2 linked regions of the Homo sapiens genome follow. The protein of the gene in region 1 purifies or fractionates together with the protein of each later gene. This does not show direct contact. Each region holds a gene or a part of one and is shown in the gene's direction. Other genes may lie near its edges.

Region 1 (3,183 bases):
GAGGGTGAGACACAGGAATTGCTTGAACCCAGGAGGTGGAGGTTACAGTGAGCCAAGATTGTGCCATTACATAGCCTGGGCTGAGCAAGACTCTGTCTCAAAAAAAAAAAAAAAAAGCACTGGTCTAAGCTACTTCCTGGAGCTTTGATTTTTAAAAGAAACTGTCACTGTCTAGCCTGTGACTGATGAATGTATGTGATTGCCCTCTGGAAAAGTATGATATGCTTGGCAATTTGAAGTATTCTTAGAATAATACTTTAAATTATTCCCAACTAAACTGTGTCCAAAATAGGTCCTTGATAAGCTAATCCTTACTTGGCCCCCTTCATTTCCAACCCTTTGAAATTCACTCTGCTCCTTTCTCCTGATCTTCTGGAAGTTTCTTTCTGAATCTAGAGAAACTCTCCTCACCAGAGAGGAATGATGTAAGCAGGCTCAATTAAATGCCCGCTGTGTATAATGAAGCATATTGTTAGGTGCAGCATGGGACATAGAAGTTCAAAGACTATAGCTCTTGAGGATATCTTTATTTAGTTGGAAATACAAGACAGAAACATTCAAAGTAAAGTAAATTTATTCCTTATATTTAGGTAGCCCTTGTTCATCTACCTCTTCTGAAATTTTGCAATAATTCTGTGATGTTGGTAGGAAGGGAATGTGATGTTAGATAAGAAGTCAGATGGCCGGCACATCCATCTGACAGCCACACCACTGATATTAAGGGATTTGTTAATGTCATATGGCTCCTAAAGAGCTAGGATATGCATCCATATCTTCCAGCTCCAAGTACGAGTTTTTTTCTTTTTAAAAAATATTGTGTCACATTATACCCTCTAATGCCAAATTCATTTAAAATAAAGAAAAAGCCATATAAGATTGCAGAAGTAATTTTGGTGGTTGTGGTAGTTAAGAGGCAAGAAATCATTTGAAAGAGTTTGGGGAGTCTTCAGTGAAGAAGGATAATGTAGCAGTACCTTGAAAGATGAGCAGGACTTATCTGGGCAGACAAAGAGGATGAGAAATCCAAGAGAGGGGATGAGATGGAAAAAAACACAGTATGTTCAAAGAATAATGATTAGACCAGTATCCTCAGGCGATGTGAAATCTAGATTGTTTCAGTACAGTTGAATGCGTCATCTAAATTTCCCAGGTGTGGGAATCAGTGTTTAGGGTAGAGGGATCACACAATTGGTTCCTTTTTTACTTCATGCTCTTGCACAGAATCCACTGTGTAGAATTAGGGAGACATGACTTCAGATACCTGACTGGTGGAATTAAAGGTGGGAGTTTCTAATCTGGGTTGTGTTTCATGGACTACCCCGTGTACTTTCTACAGGCAGTGTGTTGCTTGTTTTGGATAGTTGGGAGCAGCTTCGCTCACCTTAAGGAACTGTGGGTAGATGGTTTGCAGGACCACATACACACACAAAATAGCCGACTAAAGAAAGCGGTGGAGATCGAGATCAGTAAGTTTGATTTGGGAACAAAACCCTGGAGACTCTATAGGTAGGTGACTGTTGGGGGTGGACAGGCGCTGAAGACTTGGATTGGTTTAGACCTAGAAGGAAGTGGCATTTGATTGGTTATTATAAGTGAAAAGGGCCCCTCCCCGGGTGAGATATGCCAGCCCCATAATTAGGACCTGAAAATCTCTGCCAGGCCTGCCTTTGTGACGTGGCCCAGTCTACCTCAGCTATGGAACAGGCCTTGACTGGTGAGGCCCAAAGCCGGTGGCCCCGCAGAGGCGGGAGTGGGGCCATGGCTGAGGCGCCTGGGCCCAGTGGCGAATCCCGAGGACACTCAGCCACTCAGCTGCCAGCGGAAAAAACTGTCGGGGGACCATCGAGGGGCTGCTCAAGCTCCGTGCTCAGAGTGTCCCAGTTGGTGCTCCAGGCCATCTCCACTCACAAAGGGCTGACTCTGGCAGCTCTCAAGAAGGAGCTCCGAAACGCCGGCTACGAAGTGCGCAGGAAGAGCGGCCGCCACGAAGCGCCCAGGGGGCAGGCCAAGGCCACGCTCCTCCGGGTCAGCGGCAGCGACGCCGCCGGCTACTTCAGGGTCTGGAAGGTTCCCAAGCCCAGGAGAAAGCCGGGACGCGCGAGGCAAGAGGAGGGCACGCGCGCTCCCTGGAGGACCCCAGCCGCGCCCCGGAGCTCCCGGAGGCGCCGCCAGCCCCTTCGCAAGGCGGCCAGGAAGGCCAGAGAAGTGTGGAGACGGAACGCGAGGGCGAAAGCCAAGGCCAATGCCAGGGCGAGGAGGACCAGGAGGGCAAGGCCGAGAGCCAAGGAGCCGCCGTGTGCCAGAGCCAAGGAGGAAGCGGGAGCGACAGCGGCAGACGAGGGGCGAGGACAGGCCGTGAAGGAAGACACCACGCCGAGGTCAGGGAAGGACAAGAGGCGAAGCTCCAAGCCCAGGGAAGAGAAGCAGGAGCCCAAGAAGCCCGCACAGCGGACCATCCAGTAGCCAACGCGGGCTAAAACCGACCGGACATCTAGCGGGCAGGGGAAGACTCCACTAAAGACTTCCACAAAGACCTCCCCTAAATCTGAAGGTCTTCCTGATCCAGTTGGGAATGCATCTTGTGGGAGCAGCTTCACTCCCACCACGGACCAATGCCTTTCCCCCATAGGCCCCAAGAAGAGCGGCTGTCACACTCATTGAAATGAAATGGACCTCTAGACCACCTTGTGTCTGTTTCCTCTTTGCCGCACCTGGAAGGGAAGGGGTGGGTGGTGGTAACGTTCAGTGAAGACAGTAAATTAGCTGAGATTCTGTTCCTGCTGCAGAACTCAGAGAAATGTCTTTTAGAAGGAGAGAAAACAGAGGAAAACCAGCAGCTTAACAAGTGTTGAAGTATTGTTAGATACTCTAGCAAATCCAAATTGAGTTCTGGGGAGGAAGGCATGTTGGGAAAAGAGTAGACAGTCTTTAAGTTGAGTGGTCCCACTGATTCAAAGTGTTCTTACCTGAAATTCCTTTTAGGACAAAGTCCTCCCAAAATTGATTATAATGAGTTTGTAGTTTTTGCCTTGAATTGATAACCTATTTTAATTTAAAAGATATTCTTATGTCAATCCTCAGTTAAATAAGTGTATGAAAGCATCCAGCATAGGGCCTGGCATAGGATAGGTACTCATCACTGAGAGTTAAATATGTGTATAATTAATTCCCGATGGAGTGGTA
Region 2 (4,065 bases), on another chromosome or scaffold:
TGTATATATTATGTATTATGAAATATATATTACGTTATGTAATATAGATTATATATTATATATGAATATCTTATATCCATATATATTCCATACATACATTTTATATGTGTGTGTATATATATATATACGCACCATGGTCCATCCCCTCAATAATATATTTTCCAAAACCTCAAATTTCCTTCTCTCTGTCTTTTATAATACCTGCCCTGGATAATACTAACCATCTGTCTCTCCTGCCTATATAATTCTGCCCCTACTGGTTACATGGGAAGCCTTGGTTTCCTAAAGTGTTGAGATTACAGGTGTGAGCCACTGTACCCAGCCTGATTCTGGAATTTTGTATATGCAGACTCCTCCTGCTAAAATAATATATATTATATATAATATATATTCCATAATATATATAACATACATACATATATTATTTTAGCATATATTATATAATATACGGTAATAATACACATAATACATAATTATAATAAATATGATATAATATATATTCCATTGTATAAAACATATAATATATATAACGGAATATTATTCAACCTTGAAATAGAAGGAGGTCCTGACATTTATCACAAGATGGGTGGACCTGGAGGACATTACGCTAAGTGAAATAAGCCAGACACAAAAAGAAAAATATTGCATGACGTCACTTACATGAGGAACTTTTTTTAATCAAGAGAGACAGCTCAAATACACAGAAATAAAGAATGAGGCAGTTGGGGAAGAAAATGGGAAGATGTGGGTCAAAAAATACAAAATAGCAGATATGCAGGATGAACACCACACAGGTGATGGTGATTTTACGCCCTTCCCAAGGTGTCATTCAGAGGCACGTGGTCTCCATCTGACCCTCACTGGTGATATTGATTTGATCACCTGGTCCAGATGTTGTCCAATTTCTTCGCTGTACAATTTCTATTACTTTTTCTCCATTCCAACATACGAGCAGTTTATAGAGAGGCATTTAAGGCAATTCAAATATTCTGCTCGTCATGCAAATGTCCCCCAGTTGTGTCATGTAGATGACAATTCTTGCCTGATTCAACCTTTACCACTACGATGGCTACAAAATGCTGTGGGTTGTGGTTGAAAATTTGAGTCTTGAGTAGAAATTGGAGAAATATGCTGGACCGTCAGATTCCACCGGGGCACGGCCGCCATGCCAATCCAAACTTCAAAACTACAATTCCCAGCATCCTCTCCGCCCCGCTTCCGTATTAGACGCCGCCAATGAAGTCCCGCGAGAATTGGAAGGCGGCAGTGAAGCGGAAGCCATTACTCTCTGGAGTCGATTGCCCCGAGACACATGGGCCAAGGAGGGGTCAGCGGCGAATTCTTTCGGCCTGTTGGGGACCCCTCGTGTCCCCACGCCAGACTGGACCTCCCGTATGAACTTCTCTTCGCATCGGCGGCGGCTTCCGTCACCTCCGCTCCCCCGATCCTATTCCCAGTCGTGTAAGCCCTGCTTTCCTTAACCCTTCTCCCCCTCAGTTCCAGGGGTCACGGGAGGCCTATCTGGCGGTGAGGACTAAGAGGGTACGAGGGTCGGGGGCTAAAGAGCTAGGCATCCAGACGAGGGGTGCGTTTAGATCTCGCGATCAGCGATATGAAAAGCTGGGGACGCGAAGGATAAAATTGGACCATTGCAGCTAGTGATGAGAGAAGCATTGGTCACCTGATCCTGAAAAGCCCTAAGTCTCTGGTGGGGGCGGAAAAGCCCGGCTGAAGTGAATTCAAGAGTTTGGGGGCAGTTCAGGAGATTGGGGGGCGTCAGGATTTGGACATCGCGAGGAGAAATCACCTTCTTTCTGCGCTGTAGTCAATTTTATCTCGTGAATGTCAGCACATTGGTGTTCTTATTAGCACTTACCTTGAGTACCTTTTATATTTTTAATTTAAGACCTTCTGGTTGCACTTTTTTATTTATTTTAATTTTAGTGGACTCTTGTAAATAGCCTATATGTATATTTACTATTCAGTTCAACATTTTGTTAATTAACTTGAGTTAGTCCAGTTATACTTATCGTGATTATTAATATTTTCCATTGAATTTTACCGTCTTATTTTGTGGTGTGTCCTTTCCTATGCACATATTTTAACACTGGAAAATAGGACATACATGCAAAAAAAGTATGATTACACACACACGCAGACTTACACACACTTAAAAGGACAACAGTAAAGCGAATTTACAAACCAGGCCAAGAAAGAGATTATTAAATCTCAGAAAGCTGTGTGCCTCTTCTAAACTGCATCCTCCTCTCCCACCAATACTGTCTCCGTGGATTTGACTGCGTATACATCTTTTCCAGAAAATATATTTCCTAAATTTTGGTAATTATTTGTGAATGAACTCAGGCGCTTCAGTATTTTTGGAAACAATCTTTTTCTGTATTGATTCAAGCACACCTTTGTAATTTAGAGATTTCTAAATATCTTGTAGATGAAGTACTTACACCTAGCCATTCTTTTTCAGGAATGTCATGGCTTAAATTCTAGTCAGTTCACCAAATTCCACATACTGGACTTTTGTTTTCAAGTTGTGGTGAATCTATATTTGAACTTTGGGAATATTGTCGTTTTTATGCCATTGAGTTGCAGTTAATTGATTTACATCATTTATTTACATCTTCTTTAATGCCTTTCAATAAAGTGTTTTTTGTTGTTGTTGTTGTTTTTTCCTTTTTGAGATGGAGTCTCACCCTTGTAGCCCAGACTGGAGTGCAATGACAATCTCGGCTCACTGCAACCTCTGTCTCCCTGGTTCAAGCGGTTCTCCTGCCTCAGCCTCCCGAGTAGCTGGGAATACAGGCACCCACCACCACACCCAGCTAAATTTTGTATTTTTAGTGGAGATGGGGTTTCAACATGTTGGCCAGGCTGGTCTCGATCTCCTGACCTCAGGTGATCCACCGGCCTTGGCCTCCCAAAGTGCTGGGATTGCAGGAGAGAGCCACGATGTCCGGCTCAGTAAAGTTTTATAAGTACCTGCAAAAAGGATTTAGGTTGTTTTTGTTATATTTATTCTTGGGAACTTTGTTTTTTGGTGCTCAGAAAAGTCTAACTTTTGTGTAGTTTGTTGGATGTTCTTCGTAGACAAGGAAAATGTGTACAATTCAAAAGGAAAATACAAATATTTATTTTATACAGACGATAAATTGTCTTTTTTGTTTGTTTGTTTGTTTGTTTGTTTTTTGTGCTGGACTGGGTGGGGACTTCCCTTGTCATTGACTGGAGTTTGGATGGCACACTCTAGGCAAGCCTGTTTGTTTTCTGATCTTAAAGGGAATTGTCATTTGTGTCTGCCGAAGGCTTTTCTGTCGAATAGTTTTTATTAGGTCAAGGAAGCTCCCCTCTTTTCCTACTTGAGTTTTTCTTGTGAATTGCTGCAGGCTTTTAACAAGTGATTTTTTTTTTTTTTTTGCCATTATGTATCTGTTTATTGATACATTTTGTATCTGTTTGATACAAAATCTATATTGATAGTTTTGTATCTGTTTATTGATACATTTCTAGTACCTTAAATTATGGCACTCAGTACTGCTGTGTAACAAATTAATGAGTGAATAATATAATTTTTTTTCTATCCTGTAGTGTGGCAAATTAAACCAATTGATTTTCTCTTGTTACATTGAATTTGTATTGGTAAATAATTTGGAAAGGACATGTTACTATTTGTTACTTTTGGCTTCGGTTTGCTAATACTTTGTTTGGTGTTTTTGGATCTATGCTTGAGTGAAATGTTCCTTTTCTGTTTCAGATTTATGCCAGCCTCATAAAATGGGATGAGAAGTGTTCTGTTTTCTAAACTCTGGAATGTTTTGCATAAGAATAGAATATTTTGTTCCTTAGAACGGGAGTGGTACCTGGAAAAACCATTTGGGTCTGGAGTTTTCTTTGTGGAAAGTTTTAAAGCTATTGTTTCTGTTCTTTTAAGGTTTGTGGGGCATTCAGGTTTTCTGTGTTGTTATGATGAGTAAAATTTCTTTAGGAATTTATTTATTCCATCTGAGGTTTAAATCGTATAGTCAGGGTTGTTCATAACATACTCAAATTTTT

What was found. Proteins that work in one complex are often made in the same cells at the same time.
Region 2: the proteins of H1-7 (region 1) and ZNF317 purify together in Homo sapiens (affinity purification with mass spectrometry; one large-scale study listed by BioGRID and IntAct). This does not show direct contact.

What each region holds. Positions count from the first base shown.
Region 1 is NC_000012.12:48,327,597-48,330,779, forward strand, and holds H1-7 (testis-specific H1 histone), read left to right. Parts: upstream 1-1,383; 5' UTR 1,384-1,695; coding exon 1,696-2,463; 3' UTR 2,464-2,683; downstream 2,684-3,183. UniProt on the Homo sapiens protein: Essential for normal spermatogenesis and male fertility. Required for proper cell restructuring and DNA condensation during the elongation phase of spermiogenesis.
Region 2 is NC_000019.10:9,139,132-9,143,196, forward strand, and holds the start of ZNF317 (zinc finger protein 317), read left to right. Parts: upstream 1-1,265; 5' UTR 1,266-1,461; intron 1,462-4,065. UniProt on the Homo sapiens protein: May function as a transcription factor. May play an important role in erythroid maturation and lymphoid proliferation.